Homo sapiens: one gene and its partners. The protein of the gene in region 1 interacts with the protein of each later gene in a pairwise test. Each region holds a gene or a part of one and is shown in the gene's direction. Other genes may lie near its edges.

What was found. Proteins that work in one complex are often made in the same cells at the same time.
Region 2: the proteins of PRPF18 (region 1) and CCNC interact in binary tests that used the Homo sapiens proteins (3 or more experiments, as listed by UniProt).
Region 3: the proteins of PRPF18 (region 1) and PPIH interact in binary tests that used the Homo sapiens proteins (3 or more experiments, as listed by UniProt).
Region 4: the proteins of PRPF18 (region 1) and ZRANB1 interact in binary tests that used the Homo sapiens proteins (3 or more experiments, as listed by UniProt).

The regions. Positions count from the first base shown.
Region 1 is NC_000010.11:13,605,812-13,611,199, forward strand, and holds part of PRPF18 (pre-mRNA-splicing factor 18), read left to right. Parts: intron 1-4,227; coding exon 4,228-4,374; intron 4,375-5,388.
Region 2 is NC_000006.12:99,551,124-99,556,511, reverse strand, and holds part of CCNC (cyclin-C), read left to right. Parts: intron 1-2,710; exon of another isoform or gene 2,711-4,616; coding exon 4,617-4,672; exon of another isoform or gene 4,673-5,388. UniProt on the Homo sapiens protein: Component of the Mediator complex, a coactivator involved in regulated gene transcription of nearly all RNA polymerase II-dependent genes.
Region 3 is NC_000001.11:42,663,572-42,668,959, forward strand, and holds part of PPIH (peptidyl-prolyl cis-trans isomerase H), read left to right. Parts: intron 1-1,291; coding exon 1,292-1,384; intron 1,385-2,408; coding exon 2,409-2,496; intron 2,497-2,975; coding exon 2,976-3,016; intron 3,017-3,779; coding exon 3,780-3,848; 3' UTR 3,849-3,869; intron 3,870-4,475; exon of another isoform or gene 4,476-4,580; intron 4,581-5,388. UniProt on the Homo sapiens protein: PPIase that catalyzes the cis-trans isomerization of proline imidic peptide bonds in oligopeptides and may therefore assist protein folding. Participates in pre-mRNA splicing.
Region 4 is NC_000010.11:124,947,272-124,952,659, forward strand, and holds part of ZRANB1 (ubiquitin thioesterase ZRANB1), read left to right. Parts: intron 1-5,388. UniProt on the Homo sapiens protein: Ubiquitin thioesterase, which specifically hydrolyzes 'Lys-29'-linked and 'Lys-33'-linked diubiquitin. Also cleaves 'Lys-63'-linked chains, but with 40-fold less efficiency compared to 'Lys-29'-linked ones.

The DNA.
Region 1 (5,388 bases):
TTGCATTATTGTAGGCAACAATGGAAAAGTAAAGTGAGCAGATTATTGCTGCTGAATGGAAGTTTTCATTAATTTTTTGAAAAGCTCATATCTTAAGTATAACATTTAATGCATTTTGACAAATACATACAAGCATATAACCATTGCCCTTATAAAGAAATAGAACATTTTCGTCACCAAAGAAATTTCCCTGAGAGCATCAGGAAGAATAGCGAATGGATGCTGGGCTCAATAGCTGGGTGATGGGATGATCTGTGAAGTAAACCACCACGACACACGTTTCCCTATGTAACAAACCTGTCATCCTGCAGCTGTATCCCTGAACTTAAAAGTTGAAAAAAAAGAGAAAAAGGAAATTTCCCCAGTACCCCTTCTCAGCCTATCCTCATATTTCTCCTCATCCCTTCCTGGGCAGCCACCATTTGAATTTTGTCATCATGGATTAATTTTGCTTGTTCTTGTATTTCATACAGATGGACTCATAGATTGTGTGTCTGGCTTCTTTCGCTCAGCATATCAGTTTTTAGGTTCATCCATGTTATTGCAGATACCACTGGTTTCCTTTTCATTTTCCAGTGATACTCAGTTGTATGAATATATCAAAATTTGTTTCCAGCTTTGGGCTATTAGGAATAAAACTGCTGGCTGGGCGTGGTGGCACAAGCCTGTAATCCCAGCACTTTGGGAGGCTGAGGCAGGTGGATCACAAGGTGAAGAGATCGAGACCATCCTGGCCAACATGGTGAAACCCCGTCTCTACTAAAAATACAAAAATTAGCTGGGCGTAGTGGCGTGTGCCTGTATTCCCAGCTACTTGGGAGGCTGAGGCAAGAGAATCACTTGAATCCGGGAGGTGGAGGTTGCAGTGAGCTGAGATTGTGCCACTGCACTCCAGCCTGGCGACAGAGTGAGACTCCTTCTCAAAAAAAAAAAAAAAAAAAAAAAAACAGGGATAAAACTGCTATGACCATTCTTATGCAGATCTTTTTTTGGAACTATGTTATTTTTCTTGGGTAAATAAATAGGTCTCTTGGGGAGATACCTAGAAGTAGAATTGCTGGATAATAAGAGTAGATGTATGCTTAACTTCATAAGAAATGCCAGTCATTTCCAAACCCCAGCATGTGGTATTGTTAGTCTTTTTAATTTTAACCATTCTCTTTTGTGTCTGGTAGTAGCTCTTTGCGGCTTTAATCACATTACCTGATGACTAAAGATGAGGAGCATCTTTTCATAAAGTTGTGTTCATTTGTGTAGTGTCTGTTAAAGTCTTTCTTTCCTTATTTATTTATTTTTTTGACACAGAGTCTCACTCCGTCACCTACGCTGGAATGCGGTGGCATAATCATGGCTCATGGCAGCTGCAACCTCCTGGGCTTAAGCAGTCCTCCCACCTCAGCCTCTCAAGTAGCTGGGATTACAGGCGCTTTTTGTTCATTTTAAAAATAAACTTGTCTTTTTGTAAATGGATTATAGGAATTCTTTGTATATTCTGGATAGAAGTTCTTTGTCAGATATACGAATATTTTTTGTGACTATTTTCTTGTAGTTTAGGGCTTACCTGTTCTCTTAATTGAATCTTTTGCTGAACAGAAGTTTGTGTGTGTGTACACACACGCTTTTTGAGACAGGGTCTCACTCTCACCCAGGCTGGAGTTCAGCATGATCATGGCTAACTGCAACCTCTAGCTCCTGGGCTTAAGCGATCTCCCACCTCAGCCTTCCAAGTAGCTGAGACCACAGGTGTGTGCCACCATGCCTGGCTGATTTTTTAATTTTTGTAGAGATGAGGCCTCCTCATGTTGCCCAGGCTGATCTTGAACTCCTCTACTCAAGGGATCCTCCCGCCTTGGCCTCCCGAAGTGCCCGGGCCAGAAGTTTTATATTTTAATGAAGTCCAATTTATTGTTTTTTCCTTTTATGGTCATTGCTTTTTGTGTCCTGCTTAAGAAATCTTTGCCTATCCCAAGATTTCAAATATATATTCTTAATTTTCTTCTAGAAGCTTAATATTATAGTTTTTGCTTTACATTTAAGGCTCTGATCTTGTTTTATGGCTTAGCATATGGTTTATTCCATGGGCTCTTGAAAAGAGTATTGTTTTGCTTTCATGGTACAGTTCTACAAATGTCAGTGATGATAGTGTTGTTCAGATCTTCTTTGGCCTTGCTAACTTTTTATCTACTTGCTTTCTCAATTATTGAGAGACAGGTGTGGTTACCTATGACTATGTAACAGACTACTCCAAAACTTACTAGTGTTTGTTTATTTATTATAAAGGATTTATCATTACCAAATCTGTTTTTGGTGATTAACAAGCCACCCTGAAACTTGATAGCTTAAGATAATTTGTTATTGTCTTAATAATTACCAGTTCTGTGGTTTTATTGGGCTGGATTGAGCAGTATCTTGCTTGGGGTCTTTATTGTGATTGCAGTCAGATGAAGGCTGCGGCCGAAATCATGTGAGGCTGCCTCTGGACTGGTCTTCTAAGCTGATATCTTGCCCCTTTCCTGGCGTCTCAGTTGGAATGGCAGGAACAGCTGGGGCTGGCCAGGCCCGCTCCCCGACCTGCTCTGTCTGCTAGCCTGGGCTGTCTGACTGCTTTCTTTGTTGCCAAACCACTTTCCTGCTTTACTTCCCAGCATTGTCATTCCAGCCCCACAACACTAGCAGTTGCTTTCAGTCCTCTGTGTCTGTAATGATCATTTTTCCTTTGCTTGCTGTGTTTCTGCCTTGTATGCTCTGGTTGAAATCTTGTTTTTATACTTTCACATGCAATTCAGTGACCACATCTTCTCTCGGAATCTATTTTTGGTCCCAGTCAGAATTAATTGCTTCCTTCTCCATGTGCCTATGAGTAAACCTTTGTTAGTGTACTTACTGTTTTTCGCTATTATTAGAGTTATGTGCATATTTATCTCTTCCTGGTGGGCAAAGGCTGTTTTACCTTTGTATGCCAAGTCCTGTGCCGTGCATCTAGAGGTTTTGAGGACAAAGCACAGGAGCACAAGGTCTGGATTCCATTCCTGGATTATAGTAATCAATTATTTGGCCGTTGGCAAGTCTTTTACTCTATTTGAACCTTAGAATCTTCATTGGTAAAACAGAGGCAGTGATATTTGGCTCACTGGGATGCACTGAGAATTCGATGAGGTGACCTCTGGGAATGCCTGGCGTCATACTTTTTACACAGCAGGTGATCAGTCAGTGTTTGAGAAATTATAAGTGTTTTGAGTTGAATGTTTCTCTTCTGTGTTTATGAAGGGACAGGAGACAATGATCAGATGCTTTTTGTGTGAGAACGTTAGGAGTTAACATTGGTTGAATGTGCACCGTGCTCCAGTAACTGTTCAAAGCTCATCGTCCATTTCTTAGCTTACTTGCGTGACTTGATGTTTGCGAGGTTCTGGAACAGCTGCATCACATAGTAACTGTTCACTGAAATAAAAAATAGCATCCTTATTACAGCCCTACGTAGTAGATGGTGCCATTACTCCTATTCTGTAGGTGAGTCTACTGAGGCACACAGGGGTTAAGCAAGCTTTCAAAGAGCTATTTAATAGTATGTGGCAAGGATTTGAACCCAGATAGCTTTTACTCTCAACCATTACCCTATAGCCGCCTCACAGCCATGTTTCCTTGGCTCTTAAACCTTGCAGCTGATTCTCATTCATTTTTAGGAAGATGAGGCTTCCATTTTCATTAAAGGGTCATGAACCATATGTGCATAAAATGCGAATTTGCTGGTTTGCTAGAAACATAGTTGAGAACCTGGGATATAGATGAGGCACCAATTTTATTACACTGATGTTTCTGAATGTTTTGGGAGTTCACAGTAGTTGAGGTTAGACATTGTAAATGAGCTGGGCAAACGGGTTGGGGACTCTAATGGAGACCTGCCACTGTCACTAAGCCTCATTAGAAAATTACAGCATTGATGAAGATTCTTACTTGGATTTGTCACTCACGTGTATTTTATTTTTCTGACCAGCAGACTGGCCATTGTTTGTGCATTGTTTTAATTTAAATAGGTCCGTAAGAATTAACTTTAAATGGACAGTAGTGATAGTTGTGTGATAAATTGATGTGATTTGAGTCCCTACTTTTGCTGAACTCTTCTTGTGGGGGAAAAAATATTTGCAGTTATTAATGAAAAATCAAAGGTGAAAAAACAGGTGTTCTTCCTTTCATAACAGGTGTTCTTCCTTTTTTTGCTTTTCTTAGGGATTGAGGAATGATTTGAAAGCAGCCTTGGATAAGATTGATCAGCAGTACCTCAATGAAATCGTCGGCGGTCAGGAGCCTGGAGAGGAAGACACACAGAATGATCTGAAAGTTCATGAGGAAAACACCACAATTGAAGAGTTAGAGGTAATCTCTACACCAAGCCCAGCACATCCCTGGCACCCTTCTTTTTCCTCTGGAGCAGATGACTGAGTCGGGCAGATTGTTGAGGGCAGAGCACACTGTTGTCCTTGGTCTTTTGTTTATTTACTCCTCGCTTTTATTTATTTACTCCCCTTTTTCTCATCCTCCACTCACATTCCCCTACTTCCTGCCTTCAAAAGGAACCCATTCTAATATGTTGGATATGCATCTTTCTGTTTGTTGGTGCTCTTGTGACCTGCAGTGTTTTGTGAGCATGTATTTTTGATTTACATAAATGATGTTATGCTGTGAAATTCTTTATTCCGTGTTTTACTTTTCTTTTTTTCAGTTAGCACTATGTTTTTAAGAGCTATCCTTGATGCTCTGTGTACACTGAATCCTTTGCTTTTAATTGCTACATAGGATTCCATGTGTTACGCCATTCACTGCATTTGACTTTTTGTTCTCCGGTAATGATGGACAGCTAGATTGTTCCCAGCTCTCTCCTACCACAAACAGCTTCCTGATGAACAGTCTTGTGCATAACCACGATGGCCTAGCAAAGTGGGATTGTGGGATTTATATATGTATATTTAACTTGTCTAAGTACTGCCAAGTTACTCTCTGGAATGGCTGTCCTAGTCTACACCCAGCAGTGTGAGGGTCCCCTGTCTTTCCAGCCCTGCCAACGCTTGGCAATATCTTGCTGTCTGATTTTTGCTATAGTGCTGCTTTTGGAGTGTTAGTGTATAATCTTAATTAAAAAGCAATTTTGTATCATGTAAGTAGCATGTAAAATAAATATGGCTTAAAGTTCTTAATGCTTAAGGAAACATAAACTTATTTTTCTGTTTCCTTTAATTCCTGGCTCTTGTATGTGTAGCTGTCCCTCTGAATAAGATCATAGTTGAGGAAGACGTCATTTTAATCCCCTGCCTCCTCCAATACCTGTCTATGGTCCCTAAATTTTACTAAAATAATTGGTATGGGCAACCAGTTGTGGGCTTTTTTTTTTTT
Region 2 (5,388 bases), on another chromosome or scaffold:
GGTAATGCTAGCATTGTGCATTAGGAAGGTAAATCTGACAGAATTATGTAAGATGAATTGGAGGAGAGGGCAGGTAGAATTAGACAAATTTTGAAGTTATTTACATCCCACAACATGGATGAACCTTGAGGACATTATGGTAAGTGAAATAAGCCAGTAACAAAGACAAATATTGTGTGATTACACTTACATGGAATACTTAGTCAAATTAATAAAGATAGAAAGTAGAATGGTAGGGCTGGAGGAAGGGTGGTATAGGGAGTGATTAATGGATACAGAGTTTCAGTTTTGCAAAAATTTTGTATATCTTAACACAATTTAAAAACAAAAACCTTCTGAAATACAGTAAAACTGCAAACTGTATTGAGTGCTGTCACTTACCACAGGGTGCTATGAGAAATAAAACCTAACAAGTTTAAAGTGGAAAAAATAATTTTTAAGTTGCTGAAGTCATCCCAGTGAACACTAATGAAGGCTTAAACGAATATTGGCAGCCAGCAAGAAGAACAAACAAGCCAGATTTGAGCGATAGAGTCAGCAGTTCTTATAAAAAGAAGGGATTTAAGAAGAGTCAGAAATGTGTTTTGAGGTTTTTTTGCCTGGGGGTTGGGGAGCTGAAGCTGGTACTGAAAAAGAGAATAAGTGAGTTCTGAAAAGAATTAAATTTAATCTTTGACATTCTAAGTATAAATATGTTAGTAGAACATCCTCTTAAAAATGTGAGGCCAGCAGTAGAAATTTGGAATTTGATAACATTTAAGAGTTGCACAGGCCAGGTATGGTGGTTCCTGCTTATAATCCGAACACTTTGGGAGGCTGGAGCAGGAGGATTGCTTTAGAACAGGAGTTCAAGACCAGCCTGGACAACATAGCAAGATTCCAGCTCTGCAAAAAATTAAAGAAAAACTAACTGGGCATGGTGGCACACACCTGTAGTCCTAGCTACTCAACTAGGCTGAAGTGGGAGGGTTGCCTAAGCCCAGGAGTTCAAGGCTGCAGTAAACTGTGATTATGCCACTGCACTCCAGCCTGGGCAATGGAGTAAGACTCTGTCCCTAAAAATTAAAAAAAAAAAGAGTTCCACAATGTCTTATGCTGCATAGAAAAAGATGTGAACCAAAGAAAAAAACATCTTTGAGAGAGAACATAGTGTCATTAACAATGTGGGGGTGGAGGTAGAAGCCAGATTGCAAGGAATTAAGAAGCAAGTAGGTGCTGAGAAAGGAATAGTCTAACTATATTAAAAATATATGAAACAACTTCAGTGAAGGGAATTGGGGGAAAGGTGTTGACATAAGTAGCTTTGGAAATGATTAAGAGTGTAAGAGTAAAGGCAAAAGGAACTACACATAAGCACTGTACTCTAGTTGATAAAGTTATTACCCATGGGTGTACAAGTTAACAATTCTGATAATGCTATACATGTATATGGGAATTAAACAATTACGTAAATCAATAGCAAATGTTTGAGAGCCGGGTTTCTCATTGTTGGAGCGGGAATTTACAGATAAGCAAAGGGCTGGAAACAGCATGAACTCGTGTACCTTAATACAATATAGATGGTTAGTTACATATAGAAATATTTATAGATAAGTGTATATACATGGGTTAGTGTGTGTATTTCTTGGCTTTCTCAGCTGAAAGGGTCTATAAGCAATGACATCCCAGTAGCAATGAGCTCACCTAGTACCCATATCTTGGTTTCTAATATCATTCTCCAATAAAAGGTACCAGGGCTCCTTGGAGAAATGGTTGATTCTAGGACTGGGGCAAGAAATACACAAGATGGACCTGGACCATCTCTTAATGCCAGTAATAAAGAAGTATTCAAAACAAACAAGAAAAACAAAAACGTCTATTGATGAGGATATGTCAAAAGGATATAGGAGCTAACTAAGAGAGCTCCCACTGACCAAAGCTGAAAGAATTTGAGCATCAAAATTTTAAAAATAGCATTGGATAATAACTCAAAGTATAAACTAAATATCCATGAGTCCATACTGATATAAATAAATGAGGGAGAAGAGACATGTCTTCCATGCTGAAGAATTCCAAATAATATATGTAACTATTCTGCCCTCAAGTAGAGGGAGCATAACTCCCCACTCCTAAGGTGCTGGCTATACATGTTAACTTCCTGCTAGTGTGTACATATGGAAAGGGAGGAAAAAGGTAACTTTACAGTGGGGAAACCTGAGAAATACTGCCTTAGCCAGGCGATCAAGGTCAGTAGCAACAGTGATAAATCACATTAATATCATGTATCATTGATGTGATATGATGAAGATGGTACTTTATCTCGGTGGTCTTCCTGTCAAAAACCCATTTTCTCTAGTCTAATGAGAAAAACATCAGACAAATTCCAGTAGAGGGGCATTTGACAAAATACTTGACTGGTACTCCTAAAAACTGTCAAAGTCATCAAAAACAAGGAAAGGCTAGAAAACTGTCACAGCCAAACAGTCTAAGGAAACATGACAAATAAATATAATGTGGTATCCTAGATAAGACCCTAGGATAGAAAAAGGACATTGGTACAAACTAAGGAGATCTGAAAAAAGTACAGTTTAGTTAATAATAACATTTCAATATTGGGTCAGTAATTGTAACAAATGCGCCATACTAATGTAAGATGTTAATAGTAGGGGAAGCTGGGTGAAGGCATGTCTTAGTCCACTTGGGCTAATATAAGAAAGTACCATAGACTGGGTGGCTTTCACAACAGACATTTATTTCTCACAGTTCTGGAGGCTGGGAAGTCAATAACGGTGGGTATAAGAGAACTGTGCATGATCTCAGTGTTTGAGTCTACAAAAATAAAAGGCAGAGGAATATAATTAGGTAGAGTTTGTTTTGCTTTTTTCAAGGGAAATTTGAGCATATTAGTATGTGATGGAAGATTTACTGAAGGAGGAAGGTTAAAGATGAAAAAAATAGCAGGAGTTATCAATTGAATAGATGATAATAAGTGTATAAGTGGTAAGACAAACAATAGAGAGGAGGGATGTATTTTTCTCCAAGTTGGAGGAAAAGGATTAAAAGACAGAAAAAAATGCAGAGCAGTTTTAGCATGGAGTAACAGACATGTGACAGTATCAGGTAAATATATTCTCAATAGAGGTGTTAGGTGTCAAGGTCCAGGGGATGGGGATGTAGATTTGTTTTATATACAGAGATAATTTTACTTTGTTGATTGTCTACCATTATATAAGAACCTGTTGTGCTGGTATACTTTACATCACAAGGATTTGTAAAACTCAGAAACCTTAATAGGTACGTCTTAAATTTAAATAAAGGAGAGAAGAAAGGAAAGATTATAAATTTACTAATGTCAAGTTTAAATTATTCTAGGTTTCAAATCCTGGCAGATATTACACATCTAAATTAGCTGTAGGGCACTGAATTTGCAAAACAAATCTTTTTGAAAACATAGTGCATAGAAGAAATGGAATTTCTTTCTTTTTTTTTTTTTGAGATGGAGTCTCACTGTCACCCAGACTGGAGTGCAGTGGTGTGTTCTCAGCTCACTGCACCCTCTGCCTCCCGGGTTCAAGGGATTCTCCTGCCTCGGCCTCCCGAGTAGCCGGGACTACAGGTGCATGCCACTACACTCGCCTAATTTTTGTATTTTTAGTAGAGATGGGGTTTCACCATGTTGTCCAGGAGGTCTCGAACTCCTGACCTCAGGTGATCCACCCACCTTGGCCTCCCAAAGTGCTGGGATTACAGGCATGAGCCACTGTGCCTGGCCAGAAATGGAATTTCTTTTAATTTCAGTGAAATCACTTGGGCTTTGTACAAATGGAAGCTGACACTAAACATTTTTTAGGACCTGTCAGTAGTTACTTGGTTGAATTAAATGTGTCATAATGGCTTGAATACAGTTTCTCAAATAGTACTTATGTGTATATGCTCACACCATTTTAAGGAGATGGGGGATTGATGGTTAACATTTTTTTTTCATTTGTACTTTATTTAGTGACTAACCAATAAAGTAATAGATAATAGAGTACTAACTTTATGTGTTACTACTACTACTTTATGAGTAACTCGAGACCTTTGCATATATATTAATGCTTTTATTAAAATATATATTTTGATAAATACCTGGTCATTGTAAAAAGTTTAGAAAGTGCAGATTAGTAAAAAGTTCTTAAATCTCACAAATAACCACTGTTAACATTTTTTTGGTGTACTATCCTCCCAATATTTTATATGTATATTTTTTACCAATTGTATATATTGTAAACACATATGTAACCCCTGTGTTCCTTCTAAGCTCAGTCACTGGAAAACAGAAGAATACCATTCTGTAGCTGAAAAGATTTTAGAAATGATAAAAGCCAGTGATTTTTTTTTCCTGATCTTTTTCTTTTTTAAACATCAGAATCCTTTCTTAAGGTAGTAAATATAAAATTGAAGCTGTGTAGAGTGTCCTGCCCCCCAGTCTTTCCCCTTCCCTGAAAGTAAATAAAAATCTGCGTCCGTAAGTGTTGCCAAGAATTCCTACTGAAAATAATTTTGCTCTACCCTCTAATATTCTGCTCTGTTAAAGGAATTTTGAGTTAATTTATTTCCCATTTTCTCAGTTTAAATTTTTTTTTTATTTTCTGCAGTAAAAACTAGATTTTCATATGCCTTTCCAAAGGAATTTCCTTATAGGATGAATCATGTAAGTATATGATATAAAATGGAACAATTATCAAAGCTATATATAAACTAGCTCTATTTTATATTAGACTAAATTTAATAGTTTCCTAGAAATGGCAGTTTCAAATATTACATAAATACAGACATTATTCTAAATTAAAGCTAAATAGCTTTTACCATTTAAAAAAAATACTTCATAGTGGCGATTATCAACCCTGGCTGCTCATTAAATCACCTTGGGAACTTGTAAATAATACTGATGTTGGATCCTTTCCAGAACAACAAAATCAGAATTTTCAGCCTTGGGGCTCCCAACATTGGTACTGTGTAAAAGGTCCCAGGTGATACTACTATTTAGCTGGGATTAAAAACTAATGGAACAATATGAAATATAAGGTGAATTTCTATTGACATTTTAATAGGTATGTCCTTTTTCCACCTTGCAAGGGATTTGTTTATTCTCTTTAAGTTACATTTTTTAAATTAAGTAGAAATAATTGTATTTTTGCATTTGCTGAGTAGAAAGTATACTGGAAAATCTGATGGTTTTACAGGATATTTTAAATAAAAGTGAGTAATAAGAATGATTGTGAGAAGCTGGCTTTTCCTTACAAGGATTAAAATCCTTATAATCATAATTGCATTTCTAATAGTAATTTTTTATTGCAGATATTTATTTTAATATAAACTATGTTTATTGTCTGGATTTTTAAAACTTTTTAGTAAAAATTTTTGATA
Region 3 (5,388 bases), on another chromosome or scaffold:
GTATTTTTAGTAGAGATGGGGTCTCACCATGTTGGCCAGGCTGGTCTCAAACTCCTGACTTCAGGTGATCCACCCGCCTCAGCCTCCCAAAGTGATGGGATTACAGGTGTGAGCCACCACACCAGGCCAGGTCTTTCTAATATACAGACTTGATTTTATTTTATAATATTTAGGCAAACAAAGGTTTGAATTTGGACAGTTTTTCTTTATTCTCTGGCTTATATTAATGGTAGTTCTTTTCCAAAAAGGGACCCTTGATTCCTCACTGGGTCAGTGTTTTCCCTTTCTCCCATGTACTCTTTCTCTTTACTAACTGGCGAGGAGAGCTTGATCTTTTTGGCACTCCTCAATATTGCCTTTAAAACTCAGGGATTCTATTTAAGGCACTGCAAATATGGCCTTGGTCAAATTGTTTTATTACCCAGACTTCAGTTTCCTCACATGAAAAATGGGGAAGATGATAATGCTTATTCCTCAAGGTTGCTGGAAGAGCAAGGAGATAATGCAAATAAAGCTAGTTTAAGCAGAAATTGGGAGTTTATAATAAAGGGAGTGTTTCATGGAACTAAAGGAAGAAATAGAACTAGGAACTAGAACCATAGAGAACCAAGGCAGTTCTTTATCTCCGTTTCTCTAGTGCTCGCTACACATCTGTGTTGTGTTCTCTCTCTGTTCTCTAGCCCAGCTTGCAAATGGTAGTCACATCCAGCTTTCAGGTTTACATGTTACAAATTTAGCCTCAAAGAGAGCATCTATCCCACCTCCAGATTCCCAGAGAAGGAACTCTAGTTGGCCCAGAGTGAGTTAGGCATCCTTCCCTAGATCAATCAACTATGACCAGGAGGGTGGTATCATGTTGTACATACAGACTGCCAAGAGCTCACCCACCCTCTTAGATAGTTTAGGGGAATGGGGTGGTAGTCACTTAAGTGGGTACTTTTATGTGACTGAAGGCATGAGAGTCTTCAGGAATGGCAAGGATTGAGTATGTGATCACCTTGTTGCTGTTCCCTACTTTGTCTGCATCTTAATTGATCGTTCTAGAGGCCCAGCTGTGACCTCTTTTATCCAGTCTATAAAATGCTCCAGCCAGTCTTTGTGGGCTGTAGGTACCTTATATAAGGCTTGATCTGATTGCAGGGTGGGGTCAAATAGGTGCAGCTTCCAAGATGACCAACAAGAGTAAGAGTAGACTTTAAAGATGTCATGCTTTAGGTGCGACAGTGTTCTTCCTCCGGTTTCCAGGGACCCAACACTCCAAGTCACTAATACTTCCCTTCTCTCTGCTCAGGGAGATGGTACTGGAGTCGCCAGTATTTACCGGGGGCCATTTGCAGATGAAAATTTTAAACTTAGACACTCAGCTCCAGGCCTGCTTTCCATGGTAAGTGAGGTCCAATCAAGGTTTTGGGTTATAGCCAGCTGGTTCCTGGGCCCCTCTTGAGGCCCAGTGCTGTCTCTTGGGATGGAAGCAAATGCTTTCCTTCTCTTGCTTGGCCCAGGACTCACCTTTACCACCTCCTTTCTTAGTCTGGTTTGACTGAGAAAACCAGTAGGTATGCTGGCTCACGCCTGTAATCCCAGCACTTTGGGAGGCTGAGGCAGGTGGATAACCTGAGGTCAGCAGTTCGAGACCAGCCTGGCCAACATGGTGAAACCCCATCTCTACTAAAAATACAAAAAATTAGCCAGGTGTGGTGGTGGGTGCCTGTAATCCCATCTACTCGGGAGGCTGAGGCAGGAGAATCGCTTGAACCCAGGACGGGGAAGTTGCAGTGAGCTGAGATTGCCCCACTGCACTCCAGCCTGGGCAACAAGAGCGAAACTCCATCTTAAAACAAAGAAAAGAAAGAAAAGAAAACCAGTAGGTAAGGCCCACTAGCAGGCTAGCAGGCTGGGGAACTAAAATCTGAACCAGGATTTGTGTCTGGGCATTCAGCCCTACTGCTCAGAATGTAAACAGTTGTGCTTTCAAGACATATTCATAGCTGGGTGTGGTGGCTCACACCTGTAATCCCAGCACTTTGGGGAGGCCGAAGCAAGAGGATTGCTTGAGGTTGAGGTCAGGAGTTTGAACAATCTGGGCAACATAGTGAGACTTAGTCTCTACTTAAAAAAGAAAAAAAAAATTAGCCAGGTGTGGTGACACACACCTGTAGTCCCATCTACTAGGGAGGCTGAGGTGGGGAGGATTGCTTGAGCCCAGGAGTTTGAGGCTGCAGTGAGCCATATCCTGTTCATCTCTGTATCCTTGGATCCTAGCTTAGGCCCTGGCTCATAATAGGTGCTAAGTTAGATTTACTGAAAAAAACCATAGAGGAATCAGTGTTACAAGCTCTTTTGGAAATCTTGCCCTTCAGCTAACATGGCCGGGGAAACTTACTGCAGGTATATTTGGTTTCCATCAGGCGAACAGTGGTCCAAGTACAAATGGCTGTCAGTTCTTTATCACCTGCTCTAAGTGCGATTGGCTGGATGGGAAGCATGTGGTGTTTGGTAAGTCCTACTCCTGTCTCATGGTCCAGGCCCCATTCACCCTGGATGGAACCTCCAGAGGAGTTAGTTCTCAAACTCTTACCAAGAAAGCTCAACCTGTGTAACTGCTTAGGTGGTAATAGAGAAAACAGAAATGGTGGGGAGGTGGGGAACATGTGTGGCTAGAGAACTAGAGGGAAGGACAAAAGGACCATTTGATATAGTATGGAACCACTTAGGGAGAAAACCCAGTTGCTAGCACCAAAGAAATGCCATAGAGGCAGCATGATACGGTGAGACTTTGGAGTCACTCAGGTATAAGTTTGAGCCCTAACTCTACTTATTACCTATGACCTTGAGCAAGTCATTTCACCTCTACCGCATCTTAATTTCCTAAAGTTAGTATGAGGGTTTAATGAGAAAATAGCTAAGAATGGGCTTTGGAAGCTGGAAAATGCTATGTAAACAAGAATAAAGTCCAGCTCATGCTCTTCCTACAGGAAAAATCATCGATGGACTTCTAGTGATGAGAAAGATTGAGGTAAGTACTGCTTTGATTTTTCTGTTTCTCTGCCATTGTGGTCTGGTACTGTCTGACTAGCGTGCAGGAGCTAGAGAAGGGGGAATGAGCTCCAGTTTGTTAGGCTGTCTTCATTGCCCCAGGAAAAGGGAAGAGAACCACCTAAGTTAGCCTGTCTGGCCAACACTGAGGTTTGGCCTCTGATGATCCTGTTGCCTACTTGATAAAATTCTACTCCTCAGCATTGCGTTCAAGGTCCTTCATGATTAGTCCCTGTCTACCTCTCCATGGCCCCTTCTTCTGCCATTGCCTCTTCCATGTTCCAGTCACATCAGGCTACTAGCTCTTCTCTAAATCTGCCATGCATGTCCCTGCTGCTTGCTCTTTCCTGCCCCTGAGCCTTTGCTCACACAGTTTCCTCTAGCCGGAATGCTCTTCTTTCCTTCCCTCCTGATGGAATCCCATTCATCCTTCTAGGCACAGTTCAAATACCCCTCTTTTGTGAATCCTTCCCTGACCTCTTTAAGCCCCAATTTAGTTGCCTATCTAACCCTTATCCAATTCTCTCTTATAACTTTTTCTTATATAATCATAAGTTTGATATTTTCTAAGTGTTTTGCATTTTCTCTTTGATAGGTATTATATGCTTTACCTGTCTGCCAGGACATGGACTGTTTCTGAGTGCTGAGTCCTTAGCACAGGGCTGGCAGGCATCAGTAAAAGTTTGATAAGGGAACGAGGAAGTGCCTGAGTGGATGAATCTCCATTGTGCTTTTTTTCCTAGAATGTTCCCACAGGCCCCAACAATAAGCCCAAGCTACCTGTGGTGATCTCGCAGTGTGGGGAGATGTAGTCCAGACAAAGACTGAATCAGGTAAGTGTGTCTTTCTCCTATTAGGTTAGGAATCAGACCTCAGAGAAGGCAGCATGGTCTAGTGGAAAGAACTTTAGTCTTGAAGACATGAGATTGAGCCCAGTTCCTCCGTGTATGGCCTTGGAGTAGTCACTTTCCTTCTCTGAGCACATTTCCTCATCTGTCAAATGGAAATACTGTAATACCTATCTCTCAGAGTCACTGTAAAAATAAAAAGAGAAAGGGTTGTAGGAGCACTTTACTTTTCTATCACTTTGTAATGTACAAAGTATCAATGTGAAAACTACTCAGGCAGTTTGTAACAGCACTCTCAGACTACAGTTCCATTCAGTAGTCCCCCTAGAAAGACCTGGCTCCAGGCCTGAGTAACTCTCTGCTGGGACCAGGCCAGGCAGCCAGGAGACACACCTGTCATGCCTCTCATCAGAACTGATACTGCAATTCCAGGCCTCGACTTCATATTCGCTGGCCTCATAGGTGAATGCCTTGCATCTTCCAGCCTACATGGACTCATTTCTTACCCGTAATTACCACTGCCTGCTCTGCGCTGGGCAGCATGCTAGCTGCAGAGAGGGGGACAAAGAATTGAAAGATGTCTCCTTTCAGGAGCTCATGGAAAGTAAGACATTCCCAGAGGTGATCACTAGTAATATGAGTGACATTGCCAAGTATGAGAAGAGTACAAGGGAGAAATCCATCACTTCCAGCCAGGTGAGGGGTAGTGATGTTTTGTTTTTCTTTTTTTTTTATTTTCAAACCTGCAAAAAAGTTAGAAGATAATACCTTGAACACCAATATATCTTCACTTAGATTCACCAATGATTAACATTCTTGTTTTATTGCTTTGCCTTGACATTTGTTTTTTTCTTTCCCTTCTTGCCTCCTCACCCATTTCCATTGCCTCTCCTCCTCCCTCCTGCTCCTCTTCCCTCCCTCCATCCTTTCCTTCCTTTCTTCCCATCTTCCTTCCTTTACCCTTTCTTCTTCTCTTTCCCATTTGAAAGTTGCAGACTTCTTGACACTTTACCCCTAAGTATTTCAGCAAGGAACTCCTAAAAATAAGAACATCCTACGTAACCACAATATTATCTAATATATAGTACATTTTCAAACCTCCCCAATTGTCCCAAAAGTAACTTTTGTAGCTTAAAAAAAGGTGATCCAATCAAGGTTCCCATATTTCATTTCATTTGGTTTACACAAGTAACATAATACACTCTCATTGTGAAAACTTTCACACCAAACAGATAAAGTGAAAGCCCCTCTTGACAATACCCACCTGCAATTCCACTCCCCTTTCCAAAGGTCACTTCCTTATTAGTTTGATGTATGTCCATCAGGGCCTTTGCCTTGCCCATCTAATTTTGGGAGGTTTTCTTTTTCCCAAATGAAATCATACTATATTTTTCATGTTCTAAAAAATATGTCTTGAAAACTTTTCCTTCTTAGTTCATGTAAAACCACCTTGTATTAAAAAATGAAAACAGCCCGGCAGGAGGTGGCTCACTCCTGTAATCCC
Region 4 (5,388 bases), about 110 Mb from region 1:
TGTCTGCAGTTGGTACTAGATGTTTTTAGGTACATCAGGTTTTTAGGGCGGTCATGTGAGCACTCACCATAGACTGCTTTTCTCACTGGGTAGACAATAATGTATCTAGAGAATAGAGCAGCACTACCTAATGCCCTGCTTTTGTTCTGCTATTGTATTGAATCAGTTGCCTTATGAAATTGCACTTCAATTTGTGTACATAGATACGTCCTTAAAAAGACACAGGGTTAGATAAGAACACCATATTAAATCTGTGCTGTAATGTGTATTCCTGAATCCTAGACTCATATATCCAGCTGCCTATTCAGCATCTTTCCTGGAGTGTTTAAAAACTCAAGCTCATTTCAAGCTCAGTAATGCTAAAACAGAACTGATCTCTCCTTCAAATCTATTTTTTCCCAGGCTCTCATCTTGGTTGATGGCAAATTTCTCATTCCATTGCTTGTGCCAAAAGCCTTGGCCCTCCTTGATTCTTCTTTCTCTTATGCCCCACTTCTATTTCTGAGAAGATTCTTTGGCTCTACCTTCAAAATATATCTGTACTCTGACCACTTCTCACTATTCTTGTCCAAACCATGATCTACCCTTGCCTTTGCCCTCCGTACAATCTGCTGTCATCAGAGGAGCTAATTCTTCTCAGAACCCTCTAGTGATCACCTGTTTTACTTGGATTAAAAGCCAGAGTCCCTCAAAAACTCTACAAGGCCATCTACATGCTCTGTATTGCACACTTCAGCTTCCCTCCATATACTTTTGACCCTTGAATAACACAGGTCTGAACTGTGCGCGTCCACTTATACGTGAGTTTTCTACCAGCTCTGCCACCCCTGAGACAGCAAGAATAATGCCTCTTCTTCCTCCTCCCCCTCCTCAGCCTACTCAAGGTGAAGATGATGATGATGAAGACCTTTATGATGAGCCACTTTGACTTAATGAGTTGGTAAATGTATTTTCTCTTCCTTATGATTTTCTTAATAACATTTTCTTTTCTCTAATGTATTACAAGAATACAGTGTATAATACATATACAAATATGTGTTCGACTGTTTATGCTATTAGTAAGGCTTCCGGTCAACAGTAGGCTATCAGTATTTTGGGGGGAGTTAAAAGTTATACATGGATTTTCTACTGTGTGGGAGATTGGTCCCCCTAATCTCCATGTTGTTCAAGGGCCAAATATAGTTTATCTCTGAACTAATCTGTTTTCCACCTTTTCCATTTCATTCCAGCCACTCTTGCCACCTTTTTTTTTTTTCCTATAAATAAGCCTCAAGCCTTTTACTTGCTGTTTGCTCTGCCTGGATTGCTCTCCACCTTCGCTTCTTTTCTCATGTATTGCCTTCTCAATGAGGTCCTCCATGACTGCCGTATCTAAAATTTCATCCCTGTCCATTATCCCTCCCCACAGCATTAATTTTCTTCATAACACTTCTAATATGCTTCATCATCTTGTTTATTATTTGTCTCTCTCTACTCTAGAATTTAAGCTTCCTGAGGGCCAGTAATTTTATGTTTTGTTCAAAGCTGTATCTTAGTATGTACAACAGTGCCTGCTACATACATACTAGGCACTCAGGTATTTTTATATCAATGAACGAATGAATATTTTTGGGAACTAGGGTCTGGGCAAACCTTTATCCTACTCCTCCTATGAATTTCTAGATTCTTTGCCTGCTTCCTAGCTCTCTATGTTTTTCAATAGTTGGGGCTCAACCCAGGAGAGCCAGTTTTACTTCTCACTGGTTGTCAGGAAGACTGAGGTAAGTAGTGGGTATGAAAGGGTCTTACAGGAAAGGGTATAGAGGCTTCAGTTTATCACCAGGCAGTCTATGGACATGAAAAGTCTAAAGTCAGGTTTATGTTTAATTTCTCTACCTCCCTACTTTCACTCATGGCAATATTTGTTTTTTCAAAAAAATCATTCTATGTGTTTGCTATAACTATCAAATGAGATTTTTACTTGAAATATTTTATTCAGTTGTCATTGGACCTGCTGCTTCCTAGTTGGCGTTTATCTTACTTCCTAAACAATAGCTGCATCTTTCTTAAGTTTAGGAGCTGAGATTTGGTTGGGGCTGTTGAAGGTATAGGGGGAAAAAAATCAAACTTAAGTAACAAGTTCACATTGAAACTATGTATACACATATATATGTATATATATATGTTTACACACATATGTATATATATATGTTTACACACACATATATGTATATATATTCACGTATACACACACACACACACACACACACACATTTTTTTTTTTTTTTTGAGACAGGATCTTGCTCTGTTGCCCATGCTGGAGTGCAGTGGTGCGATCACAGCTCACTGCAGCCTTGACCTCCTGGGCTTAAGCAGTCCTCCCACCTCAGCTTCCCTAGTAGCTGGGCGTACAGGTGTATACCACCATGCCCCGCCAATTTTAAAAATGATTTGTAGAGATGGGGTCTCTCTGTGTTGCCCAGGCTGGTTTCAGACTCCTGGACTCAAGTACTGGGACTGCAGTTGTGAGCCACCACCTGGCCTGAAACTGGAATTTTTATGCTGAAATACTCAGTTGCCCAATAGCAGTGGTATGAACAGCTTTCACTATAGGGAATATGTGAATCAGTAATGCCTCCCGGTGCTCTGAAGTTTTGGGGTGACGTGAAGTGCACATGCAGTGGTGTTCCCTGTTGAAAATCAATGACTTACGGACTGAACCAGAATCTCTTCTTTATCAAGTAGCAGGATGAAGTGGCATCATGAGGATTATAATTCTGATGGTTTCTGAGCAAAATTTGTCCCACTTTCAGAATTTTGACATGTCTGTAAAGACTTAGATGATTTTTATTGTTTTATTTTTTAATTAATTAACTAATTAACTTTTTTGAGGCAAGGTGGTCTCACTGTCTCCCAGGCTAGAGTGCAGTGGTGTGTGATCTTGGCTCACTTCAATCTCTGCCTCCTGGGCTCAAGCAATTCTCCTACCTCAGCCACCCAGGTAGATGGGACTACAGACGTGCACCACCACGCCTGGCTAATTTTGCATTTTTTGTAGAGATGAGGTTTCCCCTTGTTGCCCAGGCTGGTCTCAAACTCCTGGGTTCAAGCAGCCCGCCCGCCTCGGTCTCCCAAAGTGCTGGGATTACAGGTGTGAGCCACTGTGCCTGGTCTTACATGATTTTTAAAACATAGAACATGTATTGGTAACGTTTTCTTATATTAGTTGTCTGCAAAAATATTGTTATATTTAATCTATTATTTTCCCTTTTCTCATAACTTAATTGTGTTGAGAATCAATGTTTGAGGCAAATCCATTTGGATTCTAATTGTATTTGGGCCTCTTGCCAGAAATCCGTATAACGTGTCATATGGTGTCTGTCCACTCTAGAGTGCCAAGTGTAACTCTAGAAATATCTAAATATTTCCACAGTTTCTGGATGGGTCTGGATATGGTGGCTCAGTCCTGTAATCCCAGCACTGTGGGAGGTTGAGAAGAGGGGAGGATCGTTTCAGCCTAGGACTCTAAAACCAACCTGGGCAACTTGGCGAGACCTCGTCTCTATAAAAAATAAAAAAAATTAGCAGGACATGGTGGTGTTCCCATGTGGTCCCCACCTATGCAGGAGGCTGGGATGGGAGGAACACTTGCGCCCAGGCTGCAGCGGGCCATGATTGTGTCACTGCATTGCAGCCTGGGTGACAGAGCAAGACCATGTCTTAAAACTTGCATGGTATTAAATATGTCAGAAGGTATTTGTCCATTTGGTTTTACTTACACACCTTGTTTAAAAAAAAAAATAGCAAAGTGTAGGCGTATTACATTTTAAAATATTCTTTTCAATTTGTTTTGGTATTGATATTAAGAATTACGTATATAGATGGACATTTACAATTTGTCAGAGGTTTTTCTCAAGTAAATTATTAAATTAGTATTACTTTTTTCTCTGGAGAAACAAAACCGTTGCAAAATGTAATCTTCTATAATGATTTTTTTAAAAAAAGTTTCTACTGTTGAAATATGTGCCTGGTGTAATGAAAGGGAGGTTGTACAATAATCCAAACAAAATTAAATTAACTTCTGTGAAGGAAAAGTCATTTAGTTTTTGAGAGATTATATTCCTTTGAACTGGAATGATTTTAAAGTGATTTATATTACCAAGAAAATTACCATGTCAAAACGGAAAAGGAAATCCTTGCATTGGACACTGGTGATTTTGCCCATTTAAGACATCTTTGGGGTGACTTTTTAACTTGAGAGAAAACTCAGGGCATACAAACGATTGTGAAGAAAAAAATAGAAGAGGCTTCTATTCTCTAGTTCATTACTCCTTAGCTTTAAAAATTATTTCTTTCACAAGGATATTTTATTGATGACTTACCTGAAGGCACAAAACATTTGGTGTTTTTAAAAACACACCATCTGCTGGTCGCGGTGGCTCATGCCTGTAATCCCAGCACTTTGGGAGAGCGGGGCGGTCGGATCACTTGAGGTCAGGAGTTCAAGACCAGCCTGGCCAACATGGTGAAACCTCGTCTCTACTGAAAATACAAAAATTAGCTGGGTGTGGTGGCGGGCATCTGTAATCCCAGCTACTTGGGAGGCTGAGGCAGAAGAATCTCTTGGACCTGGGAGGCGGAGGTTGCAGTGAGCTGAGATCATGCCACCGCACTCCAGCCCGGGCAACAAAGTGAAACTCTGTCTCAAAATAAATAAATAAATAAAAACAAAAAAATAAAAACAGTATTGATGAAATAAGTTATAATGTCCAAATTTACATTTTTAACTTGCCCATTGACTTCCTTATAGGTTCATCTCCCTCTACCCCCTCTTTGGGCTTTTTGGGTGATTTGCATGACCAATATAAATAGAGTGGCAGGCAAGATAATGTCCACACCCCACCTCCCCATGCGTGCGTCCCAGTCCCCAGGATTTGTGAGTATGCCACCTTACGTGGCAAAAGAGATTTTACAGAAGTGATTAAAGGTTGCTTAAATGGCAGGGTTATCTGGGTGGGTGGTGTAATCACAAGCGTCCTTGTAAATCACAGCGGGAGACAGGAGAGTGAAGATTATAGATGGGACCATGAGAAGAGAAGCGGAGGCTTGAGAGAGTTGCAGGGCCCTGAGGCAAGGAATGCCAGCAGCCTCTAGGAGAAAAGGCAAGGCTTTTCTAGAGCCTCATGAAGGAGCACAGCCTTCCCAACACCTTGATTTTAGCTCAGTGAGAGCCTTGCTGAACTTCTGACCTCCTGAATTCTAAGACAGAAAGTTTGTGTTGTTTTAAGTCACTAAGGTTGTAATCATTGTTTGAGCAGCAATAAGAAATTAATACAAATAGCTTTTTTAAAAACAAATAATATCTTTTTTTTTTTGGAGATGGAGTTTTCGCTCTTGTTGCCTAGGCTG